Linked DNA regions of Homo sapiens: region 2 is linked to region 1. A link means that fine-mapping ties the variant in region 1 to the expression of a gene that starts in the linked region. Tissue or cell type: whole blood. Region 1 holds a variant in brackets; the other region holds the start of a gene. All regions are shown on one strand. Distances are between the middles of the regions.

Region 1 (8,000 bases):
ACACCTGAATGGACCTTTTTAAAGATGTCTGTTCCTAAACCGGGCGTGGTGGCTCACACCTGTAATCCCAGCACTTTGAGGGGCCAAGGCGGGCAGATCACAAGGTCAGGAGTTCGAGACCAGTCTGGCCAACATGGTGAAACCTCGTCTCTACTAAAAATACAAAAATTAGCCCAGCGTGGTGGTGCGCACTTGTAATCCCAGCTACTCAGGAAGTTGAAGCCGGAGAATTGCTTGAACCCGGGAGGCGGAGGTTGCAGTGAGCCGAGATCATGCCACTGCACTGCAACCTGGGCGACAGAGCGAGACTGTCTTAAAAAAAAAAAAAAAATCTGTCTCCTATTCAATTTCCAAAGAGAACCGGTACTGGTTAATCTCTGTTCCCTGATATCTTCATTCTCCCTAGTAATCATTTACTGTTCCCTGTCTCCTGCCTCCCCTCTGAAAAGAGGAAATGTGTGGCCGGGCGCAGTAGCTCACACTTGTAATCCCAGCACTTTGGGAGGCCGAGGCGGGTGGATCACCTGAGGTCAGGAGTTCGAGACCAGCTTGGCCAACATGGCAAAACCCCGTCTCTACTAAAAATACAAAAATTAGCTGGGCATGGTGGCAGGTGCCTATAATCCCAGCTACGTAGGGGGTGCTAAGGCAGGAGGATCGCTTGAACCATCGTGCCACTGCACTCCAGCCTGGGCAACAGAGCAAGACTCCATCTCAAAAAAAAAAAGGAAAAGAAAAGAGGAAATGTAAGTATCTGGGCCCCACCGGGATACTTGAGTAATCAGTCTGTGATTCTCCCACATGCATGTTAATAAATGTGTATGCCCTTTCTCCTATTAATCTGCCTTTTGTGAGCTGATTTTTCAGCCAACATTCAGAGGGCAAAGGGGACGTTTTCCCTTGCTCCCTACAGTAGCTTTGAAGAGGGAATTCTATTTAGCCAAATCACCAATGTTAAGAGGCTTCAATATTTTCCTTCTTTATTATTCATTCATCCACTACCTCAAAAATGATATGCAGCAGCAAAAAGCCACTTTAGGTTTTTGGGGTTTTTTTAATGATATACAGATTATTGAAGAACAACTAAAAAATAAAAATAAAAACAGGCCAGGTGAGGTGGCTCACGCCTGTAATCCCAGCACTTTGGGAGGTGGGAGGATCGCCTGAGCCTAGGAGTTCAAGACCAGTCTGGGCAACATGGCAAAACCCTATCTCTACAAAATACCAAAAACAAAAACCTCACTGCCCATTAAAAAAAAAATGACCAAAAAAGAAAGAAACTAATTAAAAATGGGCTGATAGGTATCAGAATGTATGTATCAGATATGTTTTCAGAAATGCTTCTGGAAAGTCAGTTGAGTTCCAAAACTCTGTGTCTAGTCGACCAGGGTCAAGGTCAGCAAGAAAGGAAAGGCTTGTTTCCTTCCTTTGCCTTGGAAATCACATCACCACTTAGGCATTGCTCCACCATGGTGAGCGCCAATTTATCCCTCCGTGGTTTGGGATTACCACTAATTCTGTCACTAATTACTACAGTTGAAGCAGTGATTAACATTTCAAAAAGGGAACAGCACTATGGATTTACTATTAAGAGACCCAGATTCTGATTACTGCAGGGATCTCCTGATTCTTGGATGATAAAGGAGCCAAGAGGCAGGGGGAGGTGAAGACAGAAGCCCGGCACAACACGAAGGGGCAGGAAGTGGACTGGGGGTTGGGTATCCAAGTCCTTAGCATCAACAGCAATGTCTTTGCGGGGCTGTAGGGACCATTGCAAGCGAAGTGTGGGCTCTGGGGCACATGAACTGAACCCACCCATAAATATTTGGAATGGGGGGGTGCCGTTTCTATGAATCTCTAAAAGGGGGTGAAAAATACATTTCACAAATGAGTATGAGTTCTAAGCCTTGTTTGGAGGAGTAGCCAATATGGCAAATGGCTGGATTTCTACTGCACTTGGATCACACCTTGAGACTCTCAATCCTGGAAACAGTTTGTGAAGGAGAGGGAGAGCACCCCTGCTGACATAGGTCCCTGGGACACAGCTGGCTTGAGAGCAGGGCCCAGTGGGTAGGAGGCAAAGTGTCTCCTCCCCTGTGTCTGCCCTGAGCCAGTCACACAGGGCCAGGTGCCTCGCAGGGATCAGGTAGCCTTCTGAGCTCTCCCAAGCAAAGCCAAAGCAGGTGCTCTCCTGGGTGCTGCCCATACCCCCTCCCCTCCCCGCTCCTTCCTCTTCTCTCAGCTGGAAGCAGTCAGAGCCATGCCTCTGCTACATAGCTCTCCTCATCCTGGAAAGGTTCCAGTGCTCCTGGCTGTAGGTGACATCCATGGCTGGGAAAAAGCAAGAGTGAACTATATATAAAGTTCTTTCTTCTCCAGCCAGAGACAAGCGAACACACCCAGGGTAGACCACAGTCTATTCACTCTGATGGCCAGAATCTCTTCAGTAGTTCTTAAAAAGCTAGAAGTAGGTGCTAGTAATCAACACCTAAACAAAAGGGTGGAGGTGGAGTAGGCTTACATCAGAGATATACATGCTAATATGTGAGCATGAAGTAGACCCCACCCGTGGCCACAGTGAACAGCACAAGGCCTCTTTATCAGCGTCCAAATCTCATTCAGGATGACTGCAGGCAGAGAGCAGAGGTCTTTTCCTGCTGCAACCAGCCTACTCCCACTTGCCCATCTTTCAAGAACATCAGTTGCAACAGCTGCAGTTTCCTGGCGTCCATTTTGCAGGCTGCATACAAGATGCCCCAAATCACTCCTTTAAATAAGAGCCTCGAGAGCAGGGAAGAAATCGCAGGGGTGTGTGAAAGCTGTACTCACTGGTCGTGTACTCACAACCCCAAGGGAAACCTGACTTCCTCCTGCTCTCCCTCCCTCTGCTGCCTACAGCAGGTGAGCCCCACCCTAGAGCACAGAACACAGCTAACAGGGGATTCCTGTGAGGGCGCCACGCTGGAGCAAGCACAGCATTCACCTCCACAAACTAGTAACTGCGGGTCTGCCGGGAAGAACAGCTTCCACTGAGCAGGCCAGACTGCGACTTCTCAGTCTCCGCTCAGCCAGGTGCAGGGGCTGATACCACTCCTCTGGGGAGGAGAAACAGACAATCCTCAGGGGGCCCTCCCCCAACGCCCCACTGCAGGGTATGAGCCACAGGATGCAGAGTGAAAGGATACAATTTTTCTTTCAATTCTACCTCCCCTCTGTATTTCTTTGTTTTGGGGGCTGCCTCAATTCTGCATCTGTGAAATCTGTCCAAAGGGGGTCTGGAATCTCTGCCTTTAAGTCTGAGACCCACCTGTCCATTAGGATTGCTATTATCTGGGATAAGAAGAGAGGGAAGCTTTGATTCCCTGATGGAGAGATTTCCCTAAAATGAACCCTTCATTTGTTCTGGAGTTCTTCATGTTCTGAAGACATAAGAGCAACCCACACAGTATCTGCGAGACCCATAAACACTACACTTTCTAAAGTATCACAAGCCACTAGACAGTAAAGTCAATGACAGCAGGTCAGCCTTGCCCAACCATGGTATCCCCAGTGACTGGCATAAGGTCTCAGTAGACACATATTGGATGGATGGATCAGCGGATGGATGGATGGATGGATGGATCAGCAGATGGATCAGCGGATGGATGGATGGATGGATGGGAGAGCAGATTGATGGAATGGTGAATGAATGAATGAGCAAATGTATGAACAAATGAAGTTAGAAGGAAGATTTCACAGAACATTTAGCCCTCAGGGTTCAATCTCTGGGTGACAGACTTACCAGAGCCATCAGGAATGGACCTTACGAATGTTGGCAACATCTTGACTGTGGCTGTTGGATTAAAATCCCGGGAGAGGCCATTCTTCATCTCCTTCCTGAAGCGAGTCATGATATCTATGAGAGTTTCATCGGAGAGCCGCATGGCATA[G/C]AGATACTTGTCAATCTGGAGGGGGATGAGAAGGAAGGAGAGTGAGGTCGAGGGGGAGGACAGGGCAAGGTGAGGCACCCACCCGCTGAGATAGCCAGCTCCCACAGGCACAGGAACACGCACGCTGGCACATCGCATGGCGGAAGGTCATTCAACTGCTGTCATCCATGTCACCCAGAACAGGCTTGCAAATGCTCTGAGCCCTAGTTCCTGGCCTGTAAAATGAACCCGATATCTCTAAGATCCTTTCCAACCCTCAAATATGACATGGAAGCTGCTCTTCAACCCCCAAGTACTTGATGGAGGTAGGTTTCCTCCAGTATCAGGAACACCTCAAGCCTCCTTCTCTCTCTGAGAATTGGCTGGCTCACTCTCACTGGGATGGGAATGACAGAGAGGCTACGAACAAGGGCTCTGGAGCCAGCCAACTGGGTTCAATCCTAGCCCCAGAGCTTAACAGCTGTGTGAATTTCAGTTTCCTCAACTGAAAAACTGAGATGATAGATAGGACCTAACATATAGGACAAGTTCAAATGAGACACAAGCACTTAGAACACAGTAACTGCTCAATAAACATCAGCTATTATTATTAACATGAGACAGTAGTACTGGCAGGTGTCCATGGGCAAGACTTCTAGAAAGACAGAAATGGCGGCCAAAGGGCTAGGACCCTTCTGAGAACACAGGGTGGCAGGCCCAGAGCACAGAAACCTTAAACCCAGCCTCAATGAATGGAGACAGCCCCTGGGCTCCCATACCCATGTGCCGGGCCTGTGTGCCAGGCCATGGGCCCTGCACCTCCGAGTCAAACTACTCCCACCCTTCACCAGGCCTGACCCAACCTGCTCCTCTTCCTGAGTTCCCCGTTCTCCTCAAGCTGCCCAGGCTCCTAACCTTAGGCACCCTGGGTTGTCACTGGCTATCACTAATTGTTTGTCCTTCATGGCATCTTCGCATTTATTCTCCCAAAAAAGGATTCACTGGGCACCAGCTAGGTGCCTAGAATTGAGCTAGACACCTGTCCTGATGGCACTATCCCTGTAGAGTCCACCGAGGAAGGTTCTTTTGTTTCACCATCCACTCTTTCTGCTGCTCTGTGTGCCTGGATTGCTGATGATCCACTGTAACAGTTTATCTTCAATCTCTTCCTTCCAACCCATCTTCTACACCACTGCAGCATCAGCCTCTTAAAGTGCAACCCTAATCAAGTCATGCCTCTGCCCAAAGCCTTGCAATGCCTCCCCACTGCCAAGGCACCTACCCTCTGCAGGTGTGGCTCTGTGCTCTCTGAACTCCGGCCAAACCACCTCTACCATTCCTAGTAGGTGCTCCAGGCTCTCCTCCTTCTGCTGTCACCTCTACCTGAAATGCCCTTCCTTTTCTTCCCAGCTCACCTAACCTTCAAGGTTCAAATCAACTGTCACTTCCTCCTGAAGATGTCCAAGTCCTTCAGGCTGGATATCACCACTCCTTCAGCACTGACCCCTAGGCAGGGTCTGGTCTGGATCCCAGCTTTCCATGCGTGTCACCCTGACCTCCCCAGTGCCTCACATGGAGCCTTGCACACAGAAGGCTCCCACTGGATAGAGAGACAGATTTACAGCCCCACAAGGCTGAAAAGACCTTAACACTGGTGTTTTTTCCTTTGTTTGTTTGTTTGTTTGTTTGTTTGTTTGTTTTTGGGGTTGGTTTTTTTTTCATAGTCTATCTCTGTCACCCAGGCTGGAATGCAGTGGCAGAATCTTGGCTCACTGCAACCTCCACCTCCCAGGTTCAAGCAATTCTCCTGCCTCAGCCTCCTGAGTGGCTGGGATTACAGGCGTGCGCCACCACGCCCTGCTAATTTTTGTATTTTTAGTAGAGACAGGGTTTCACCATGTTGGCCAGGCTGGTCTCAAACTCCTGACCTCAAGTGATCCACCCACCTAGGCCTCCCAAAATGTCTGCCAACACTCTCTGCGCCCAAGGATGATCCTTGCCCCCACTCCTAACCACTAGCCCTACCACCTTTTTCCCTTTACAATAAAGCAGCTCAAAGAAGGGCAATCAGGAACCACCAAGAGCCAGAATAGAAATTGCCAGAAGAGGCCAGGCATGGTGGCTGACACCTGTAATTCTAGAACTTTGCAAGGCCAAGGCAGCAGGATCATTTGAGCCCAGGAGTTCGAGATTAGCCTGGGCAACAACCCTGTCTCTACAAAAAATAAAAATTAGCCCAGCATGGTGATGCACACCTGTAGTCTCAGCTACTCGGGAGGCTGAGGCAAGAGGATCACTTGGGCCCAAGAGGTTGAGGCTGCATTGAGCCATGATTGAACCACTGTACTCCAGCCTAAGTGACAGAGTGAGACTGTCTCTAAAAAAAAAAAAAATTAACAATTGGCCAGGAGCAGTGGCCCACACCTGTAATCCCAACACTTTGGGAGGCTAAGGCAGGCAGATTGCTTGGGGCCAGGAGTTCGAGAGCAGCCTGGGAAACTTGGCAAAACCTCGTCTCTAAAAAAATACAAAAATTAGCCAGGCGTGGTGATACGCCCCTGTAGTCCCAGCTACTCGGGAGACTGAGGCGGGAGGATTGCCTGAGCTGGGGAAGCAGAGGTTGCAGGGTGCTATGATCCTGCCACTGTACCCCAGCCTGGGTGACAGACTTAGATCCAGTCTCCAAAAAAAAAAGAAAGAAAGAAATATGTATATATATTTTTTAAAGGAAATAAAATTGCCAAAAACATGGCCCTGGGAGGAGAGACAAGCCATGCCCTATTCTGGCTGGTGGCATTCATCAGCAGCCCTTGCCATCATAGTGCCCTGGGTCTGCAGGGAGAGACAGCCACGTTGCAAGCATGGGAGAGAAGGCTTCCTGGAGAGGCGAAGTTGGAGAGCATGCCCAGGCACAAGCAAGGGCATGTGTGAAGTCCGAAGGGGAGGGAGGGTGGTTTTTGTGATGAACAAGCAGACGGTGTGCCTGGAAAGACTGTCCAGAGCTCAACCACACAGGGCCTGATGAGCCACATAAACAAATACAAGCGGGATCCCACAGCACAGCGAGCCTTGGGACGGCTTTACTGATTACAACCATGATGAGAGTTGTGTGTCTGCTGCGTGGAGAATGGAGGAGCAAGCGCAAGATCATACAATAAAAGCTACATTGCTAGCTGGCACAGTGGCTCATGCCTGTAATCCTGGCACTTTGGGAGGCCGAGGCAGGAGGATTGCTTAGGCCCAAAAGTTCAAGACCAGCCTGAGCAACATAGTGATATCGCACCTCTAAAATATTTTTTAATTTTAATTTTAAGGCCGGGAGCAATGGCTCATGCCTGTAACCCCAGAACTTTGAGAGGCCGAGGCGAGTGGATTACCTGAGGTCAGGAGTTCAAGACCAGCCTGGCCAACATGGTAAAACCCGGTCTCTACTAAAAATACAAAAATTAGCTGGGCATGGTGGTGCATGCCTGTAATCCCAGCTACTCAGGAGACTGAGATATGAGAATCGCGTGAACCCAGGAGGTAGAGAAGATTGCAGTCAGCCAAGATCGCGCCATCGCACTCCAGCCTGGGCAATGCAGCAAGACTCCATCTCAAAAAATTTTTTTTAATTTTAATTTTAAAAAAGGTACATTGCTACTCCAGCATTTTGGACACGCCCCAACGACCACACTCCTCACACATCATGATTATCCTTTTACCAAGCTGTCCATCTCCTATGATACTGCGTGAGTTCCCCAGGGAAAGAAAACATATTGAATAGACCTTTGGAACTCACCCAGTTGCTTGACACAAAGGAGGAATTCAAACAATGCTGGATCCTGGAATAATACTATATAATTCTCTTGTGGCTTACAGTATATCAGTATATCAAGATCCAGTATGTCATTTAACCTTCAAAACTGTCTGGGAGATGTTCTTAATCCCCATTTTACAGACACAGAAACTGATGGTCCAAGAAGCTAAGTGATTAGTTCAAAGCACACAGCTGGGGGAGTGAGGTTTTATACCTGCAAGTCTAAGGCTCCTCCATACAATCATCCCTGCCCCTTAAGAAAGACTGGTCCCCTGCTCTGCAGAAGGCAGATC
Region 2 (8,245 bases), 24 kb after region 1:
CAGATAAAGTGATGGGGCTTCTCTTGGGAGAAACCCTAGGAGTATCTAAGGTAGGAAAGGCAGGGATTATAAAGTCAAGATTCACCAAGAAGCTCTCACTGAATATTTGTACAACATCAGAATTGAGAGGTTATGAGACACTTCTCATAATTTTCTTTCTTCTTTTTTTTTTTTTTTTTTTGAGACAGAGTCTCGCTCTATCATCCAGCCTGGAGTACGGTAACACAATCATAGCATCACAGCTCACTGTTTTGGGATCAATCTTTTGGGCTCAATGAGCCTCCTGAGTAGCTGTGACTACAGGTGTGTGCATGCCACCAAAGCAGGCTAAAAAAAATTTTTTTTTAAGATGAGGTTTAATTTTGTTGCCCAGGCTGACTTTTCATAATTTTTTCTTTTTTTTCTTTGCCACTGCAAGAACCCACAGATTTTTCATAATTTTCTTTTTTTTTTTTTTGAGACAGAGTTTCGCTCTGTTGCCCAGGCTGGAGTGCAGTGGCATGATCCTGGCTCATGCAACCTCCGCCTCCCCGGTTCAAGCAATTCTCCTGCCTCAGCCTCCCGAGTAGCTGGGACTTCAGGTGCATGCTACCACGTCCAGCTAATTTTTGTATTTTTAGTAGAGACGGGATTTCACCATATTGGTCAGGCTGGTCTTGAACTCCTGACTTCGTGATTCACCTGCCTCAGCCTCCCAAAGTGCTGGGATTACAGGCATGAGCCACTGTGCCCAGCCAGATTTTTCACAATTTTCTAACTATCACCTCTCTCACCCCTGAGCAATAATGAATGGGCATTTTTTTTTTTTTTTGAGACGGAGTTTCGCTCTCGTTGCCTAGGCTGGAGTGCAATGGCGTGATCTCGGCTCACCGCAACCTCTGCCTTCCAGGTTCAAGTGATTCTCCGGCCTCAGCCTCCCAAGTAGCTGGGATTACAGGCATGCGCCACCACACCCAGCTAATTTTGTATTTTTAGTAGAGACGGGGTTTCTCCATGTTGGTCAGGCTGGTCTCGAACTCCCGACCTCAGGTGATCCACCCGCCTCAGCCTCCCAAAGTGCTGAGATTACAGGTGTGAGCCACTACATCGGCCTTTTATTTATTTATTTATTTTTAATGCTTGCTTTTGCAGCTGGAACACATAGGCTCTAAGGAATGTACCTTGGGCAACCCTTTAATTGCTAAGCCTACTCTCCCCTGTCTTCCTGGGTCAAGTACTCAAGGACTCCTGAGTTCGGCCATTGGACAAATCACACTCTCTTCAACAGCACCCATTAACCAATTTATGCAGATGCCGTCTGGATAATGGGGTTCCAAACTGGGAAGTCAGACACCTGAACTGTTTCAACCCAGGATATATTTTTATGGAGTTGAATTATTGATGTGCCTCAAGGCAATGAGGAAAGAAATGACACCCTTTTCATGATCACCTACTAGTGGAAATCACTTAGCGTTATGGGGATCTCGCCCAGAGAAAATCCACTGGCATTTGCTCACCATTCTGACAAGCCTGGAGGAAAGGAAGTCTAATCTTTCTTTAGAAGCCAAGTTCTGACCTTCCTGGACCCATCTTCCCTTTCTAAACAAACAGAGCACTATGCAATCCTTCACCCTGCTCCAAGCTCCTAATGGCTAAACCGAGTGGAAGAAGCTGGCGAGATGAGATGCGTGTTTAAAGTTACTTAGAGGTCAAAGAACCCAGCCTCTAGCTGCAGAACTGGCAGATGTCTGGGATTCTGATGAATGGAATCCTTCACAAGCACACATATGCCTCCCTTTCCTCCTACAGGCACTAGAAGAGTGAAAGGAATATATGTGTTTTGTGCTTAGCTCAGCCTAATGCCAGTACACCCTCTTCAACAGCACCCATTAACCAATTTATGCAGATGCCGTCTGGATAATGGGGTTCCAAGCTGGGAAGTCAGACACCTGAACTGTTTCAACCCAGGATATATTTTTATGGAGTTGAATTATTGATGTGCCTCATAGGCAATGAAGAAAGAAATGACACCATTTTCATGATCACGTTTGGATTCTAAGCAATCCCAAAAACTTCCCCGGCATGGTCCCCAGCTTCCCTTCTCCTACCTCTGGCTCTGAGGGCAAGAAGATAGATGAGAGTTACTGAGGGATGCCAGGTCTGTCTCCAGAGCCCCGGAGGCTGCCTACAGCTGGAGGGCTGAATCATCATGGCTGCCCACGCTGGGGGGGAACCATCCTCAGCAGGTCCCTGCTGGGAGGCAGGCAGAGTCCAGCCCCACAGGAAGAACAGGGGGTCCCGCACCTTCACCTAGCCTTTCCTATGGTGAGTGGTACGTGGAAAGAGCTGGTCTCTAAGAAATCCTGGGCCCCAGAAGAGCAGATGTGGTCCCCAGCATCTGCACACTTGGGCAAAACTGAGTAGGTCACTGGAGCAAGTACCCACTATGTCACTGTCCTTAGAAGGCCCAGGCTGGAGTGCGGTGGCGCAATCATAGCCAGGACCACACCCACAGATGGCTGTGCCACACAGTCCACTATGCAAAATGAGTGGACCCCCTGGCAGGAATCCACGTACTCCCCTATAGAAAGCAGCATAGGAAGTCCGTGGTGAAATGCAAGCAAACATCTTGTTTTTAAGAATCTCCTTGACAAATAATATCTGGTGGAAACCTTGGCCTTAAGACCTTCCTCCAGCAAGGTTCTCGGGGAAGAGAAGGGAAGAACATCAGAATCCCAAACTCGGAGTGAGGAGGGATGGAAGGGTCAACTGAATCACACACTCAGGTACCTACGGGGGCCTAGGAGATAGACTGTGCATCCATAGATGTGAATTGAGCCACCCACAGGAGTGGAGAGCTCTGGGCCCACCCTAGACACTGTATGTCTGAGAAAACATGTCCCACTGAATGGAGTCCAAACCTCAGCCCAGCTCAGCTGCTGGAGGCCACCGGCAGCCAACAGCCAGCAGTCTGTTGTGGGTGGTGGTGGGTGTGGACACTGGAGGTTTACAAGGTCACCCAGGCACCCCCCAGCCCAGCAGCCCACTGTCTTGAGCTATAAAGGACACCACGTGCAGGAGGACAGTGAACTCTTGGCTTCAGGAGGCCTGTTCTGGGCACTTCTTGCCATGCCGGGAGAACTGTCTCCCTGGTCCAATGGGAAGAACATCAGTGATGCACAACACCACTAGAGAAAACTCATGAAATGCACACACCCGCACGCACAGCTCCCAGGTCAGTGGCCAGAGGGAAGCTCCAGGGTGCTCCATAGGAGCAAGTGTTTCGAGTGCCACGGTTTGACAACCCCAGAGTGCTTAAAGCCATAAAGAGCAATGGCAGATGGCATTCCCAAGCCTATCTCCTACCTACCTCACTCCCGGTCCCCACCCACCATGGGATCCAAGATCACGGCAGGGTCCCCAGCGGCTTTGTCTCTCAGTACCCACTCCCTCCTGGAAGCTGACCTCCAGGAGGACCCTGGTGAAGTTCCTGGGTGGAGGCACTGGGAGACCTGGATCCCCCTGACTGGCTCTGCCTCTAACTCACTGGGTGACCTTGATAAGGTCGCTGCCCTCAGTAGGCCTGTTTCCTATGGTGCCAGATGAGGGAGTCATCTTAGATGCACAGGAAGAGGATGGAACACCCTATGGCTTGCCGGGCAGAAAATCAAGGCCTGTCACTCCTGCCTTTCACCTGTAGAACTCCACCTGTCTGAACGCCAAAGTCAAGATGACTTTGCCAGTCCATCCCAGCTAACCCCAGCAATAACGTCACCACGTTCAGGGTGGGTGGGCCTGGAGCCTGTACCAGACCTGGCACTGATAAAACGGGCGTCTTTCCCTACAGCTTAGGCTGTTTCTTTAAAATATGGTAGCACAGCTGGCAGAAGAGACAAATACACCTTTAAGACCTGCCAGCGGACAGTATTTTACACTAAGATGTCAAAGGCAACAACACCTCAGGACAGGAGGATGCATGCGTCCAAGTGCTAGAACAAGCATGCCACAGGCGTCCACCCAACTCAAATGACCAGTCGCTTATTTGAGCTCCTGTGCTGGCTAGAAATTACAGCTTAAGAGGAATAAAAAATTCCATTCAGACGTGCCGCTCCAGACACGAGGCCTATGAGCAAAGTTTCCGGTGGCCTCGCCGCCCCTCCCCGTTCCGGGAAGCCGGGCGGGTCACCTCGTCCTCAGATTAACGAGCAGCTCAAACAACTGGGAGAGCCCGGCGACAGCTTCTCCGGGGCACCCGACACCCTCCGCCAGGAACCCCAAATATGGGAGGCCTGGCCTCCAGCCAGCACCCCCGCCTGCTGCTCGATCACCTCCCCAGCATCTCCATGATCACACCTCCTCCCACGGCGCTCGGACCCTCCCGAACAGGCCCTGCGGAAGGGCCCACCGGCCACCTCCCCGCACAGCCCGGGGGCCTATCTGACATCCAGGGCCCGTTTCAAGGACACTGCAGCAGGCAGCCCGGTCTCGGGGGTCTTCCGCCCGATTGCCCCCCTCCCAAAAACGCACACACACAGAGACACTGACAATGCCGGTAGAATCGAAGGCGAAGGCTTTCCTTGCGCCCTGCAGTCCAACTCGATGCTGGCCCGGAGAAGGCCGGGCGCCGGAGGATGGAGGCAGCGGAGGCGGCGAGCGGATGCCGGAACGCAAGGCTGCGGCCAGGACCAGCGGCGGCGCGGGCGGGGGCTCACCTTTTTGACCTGGTCATCCTTCAGCTCCGTGAAGTAATAGGCCAGGAGCTGCGCGGCGATCATGCTGGCGGTCGGGGTCGCGGGGCGGCAGGCGTGGGGACGGTCGGTCCTCCGCAGCCCTGGCGAGCCGTGGTCCTCCGGCGGCTGCTCGGCGGCTCCTCCTCCTCCTCCTCCCCCGGCTCCTCCCCCTCGGCCCGGGGCGCGGCGACAGCTCGCGCGCTCCCGGTCTCCGCGCTCCCGTCCCCTGGAGGGTGACAGCCGCCAGCCGACCCACCTCCTCCACGCCCATTGGTTGCGGCGCGCCTCTGCAACGCCCGGCGGTGGCGTCCCGGCCGGGGAGCGGGGACGCGGCGGCCGCTCCCTCCTGCGCCGGAAAGGGGGCGGGCGACGCAGCGAAATCCCCCCCGACCCCGCATCATCCTGCACGTCCCCCACGTAGGGAGCCGATGCGGGCCTTCACGCGTGGCGGCGCCGTGCCCGGGTGGGCCGTGCCAGGCGGGGAGGTGCGAGGCGCAGGCAGGAGGCACCGCCCGGCTCCGCCGGGACGAGAAGCCCCTAGGGCTAGTCTAGGGACTGGCAGCCCCGGGGGCACGAAGGCGGTCCCATTCCTCGGAAATGAGGGCTCGCCCCTAGGAGTCCGGTGGACGCCGAGGTGCCGGAGGGGACTTGCAGAAGTGGGCGTGGAAAGCGGGCGGAAGCGGGAGCCGGGGACGCTACGCAGTCCTCGCACCCGGGTCCCGCGCCTTCCTCACCCAGGCCGAACGCACCGGCCTACCTGGGTCTTCAGCGGCAGTGCATCACCTCTCCCCGGCGTGCCCCGCCTAATCTCCAGCTGGCAGATTTGTATTGCTGAACCCAAAGCGACACCCCAGAGCACCCGCCCCCGAGTCACCAGCTCCGGTGGCTCTCCCTCAGGGCGCACTCCCTCTGGGCGGGACTTGGGCCACAGGTCGTGGCCTGTCCCCATCCTCTGGGCCTCCTCTTGCTCTTGGGCATCCAGGCCCACTGGGACTTGGGGCACGGTTCAGCGCCCCTTCCCAGGTGCCGTGTTTTCTACTTTCCCAGAGGAAGTTACGTAGGATGGGAGGACTCCCTAGAGGTGCTACCAGGACAGCCACTTTAGGATTCTTAGATTAATTATTTCTGTGTTCCGGAAGCCTCCAGGAGCTTTAGTGCCTTACAAAATGACATGTAATGAGCTCAAATATACAAACAAGTTGTTGCTATTCTGGTTAGACAGGTAAGGAAATTGAAGCTCAGTGAGGCCTCAGTCTTGCTGGACTTTATACAGCCAGGAAGTTGTAGATCTAGGATCACAGCTTGGATCTGTGAGTCTTTGAAGCAGGTGCTCACCTCTAGGGTTTGCTGTGGTCCCAGTTGTATAGAGCCCCTCTGCCTAAATAGGTCACTTTCCTGCAACCAAGTCTGCACCATATGGTGCCCTGAGATCCAACCCCCAACCTCTACCCTAGCTCTTGACTTTAGGAGTCCCTAGCCCTTGACCAGGCCTAGCAAAGGTACAGTCAAATCAGAGGGAGGGATGACGTAGGTTCAGGGGCCTGACAGCCACCATCACCCACAGAAAAGGAGGAGCTTAGATGCAGTCCTGAGGCCCCAGCTTCCTGTCCAGGTCACAGTCCCCACCCCCTGCCTTAGGGCCTATGCAGAGGGGCATCTTGAATCACCTCTGAGACTGTGTCTTCATCCATAAGATGAAGACACTAATGCCCACCTCACCTCCCCTTGATTGTTGTGTAATACTGTACGCAAAATACGTGCACATAATACACACTTAAGGAATGGCAGGTATCATAGAACTGACTGAAAAGTTAATGCGGTTAAAGCTTCAGGGACTCTCACTTTCATTCCTACCCTTCTAGGCCCTGGGAGGGCCTAGCAGTGTGATATTTGTATATTTATATTTGAATTATTTTCCATAGAGAGTGCCAATTTATTTAATTTTCAAGCCCAACAAAACCTGGATTTGCCCTGGATCATAATTATAAACCAGGAAGAGAGAGATTTTCTGGTACACATCAAACATTTGGAACTACCTACATGGCCGTTAAGCAAAATGGAGTGAATGAGAACAAGATGGTTGTTCTCAACTGCCATTTCATTTGAGTTCTGCAGATCTGCCAAGCTCACAGGGCTGGAAACTCCTTGAGGATGGAGGACTATGTTTTGCTAATTGCTCTGTCTCCTACACAAGCGCAGGGCCTGGCACTTGGCAGGCTGAATAAGCCTAATGCATAATCAAAAACATGGCCCTTAACCCAGCCACCAGCCGGTGCCATCACCCATGCCCAACCCGTTGTTACAACTCCTATCTGAGCTGGAGCCAGGGAGAAGCTGACGCTTGGAAGAGCCAGGTTACCCTGAAATGTCCTGTTTGCAGGCAGGAAAGCTGCCTCTGCTTTGTCTTCCCTGGCCTTTGAGAGGGAAACTGCTTCTCAAGGTGACTCATTCCTCCCCACTCCATGAATGCAACCAGGCCCCAAGGCCTGTCAATATTTCCTGAGAAATGTCTCTAGGCCTGACCTATTGCCACCTCCCAACTCCCAGTCCATCTCCCTGTGCCAGAAATATTACAAGAGTCTTCTAACTGTCCTCCTCGGCTCCTGGCCTCATGCCATCCAAGTCATTCTGAGCACCAGGTCACATTAATCCTGCTAAAATGCAGCATAATCATGTCATGACCCTTCCCTAAATCCCTTCATGGCCCTCTCCTTCCTGAGAGAGCCAATTTAAACATCTCTGCCTGGTTTCCGAGGCCTTCTGTAATCGACTCCACTCTTTCCCACTTATCTCTTCCTCCACTCTGGCCGCAACAAGGCCACTTCCCACCATCCTCTGCCCCCACCATGTCCACTCCATTTGTTCGCCGCTCATATTCCCTTCCTTGCCCTGCCTTCTCCACTCACCTCTGCCTGACCAAGCATCCCCTCTCATCTAAGGCCCAGCTTGCCAACCTTCCCTGGACCACAGCTACTCACCCCAATCTCCCAGGCCTCAGCACCTCGACAGGGCAAACTCAGGCTGTGCTCACAGTCCATCTGGATATACACCCAGACTCCTCTTTACAGGGCAGGAACCTGGGATGCCACAGGTGGGCCATCTTGCCCAGTGTCAGGTTGTGGTAGAGTTTTGAGCCAGGACTCCAGCCTAGTCCTGATGCCCAGCCAGTGCTCTGTCCATCCCACCCCCAACCCCTCATGCAACCTGGGCCTCAGATAAGTAACACTGAGTCATGACTGCCTAACTGATATGGGTGACTGTCTTCTAGGGGGCTGGTCCTATCTGCCCCAATCAGACAGCTTCCTGAGGCCAGGGCCCATGCTGCACTGCTGTGTCCCCTCTCTGTTGTTCCAGTGCTGACTTCACTAATTTCCTTAATAATTTGCCTCTTTTTGCTCTTGCATAGCTCTTAGATCCCTGCTAAGGCTCCTTGACAGTTACTCCCTGGATCCTCAGGAAGACCCCAACCCACAGGGAGTCCTTAGTTCCCTCCCTCTCCAGATGGCCCTCCACTTCCCTTCAAGTCCCCTGAACTC

Evidence for each region. PIP is the estimated chance that this variant, and not a neighbour inherited with it, causes the effect.
Region 2: HK1 starts here. The variant in region 1 is fine-mapped to the expression of HK1 in whole blood (TOPMed, PIP above 0.99).

What each region holds. Positions count from the first base shown.
Region 1 is chr10:69,339,771-69,347,770 of GRCh38, reverse strand. HK1 (hexokinase 1) reads right to left here. Exons shown (of 18, transcript NM_000188.3): 2 at 3,782-3,944. Among named protein-coding and RNA genes, the nearest start is that of HK1, 25 kb to the right of the region's middle. RefSeq lists a silencer at 2,767-2,896 and enhancers at 3,501-4,354, 7,943-8,000. The variant G/C (reference allele first, on the strand shown) is at 3,930.
Region 2 is chr10:69,315,457-69,323,701 of GRCh38, reverse strand. It overlaps HK1 (hexokinase 1), which reads right to left and starts at 4,855. Exons shown (of 18, transcript NM_000188.3): 1 at 4,692-4,855. The coding sequence starts at 4,754. RefSeq lists enhancers at 1,770-2,686, 4,272-4,321, 5,612-5,841 and a silencer at 4,622-5,301.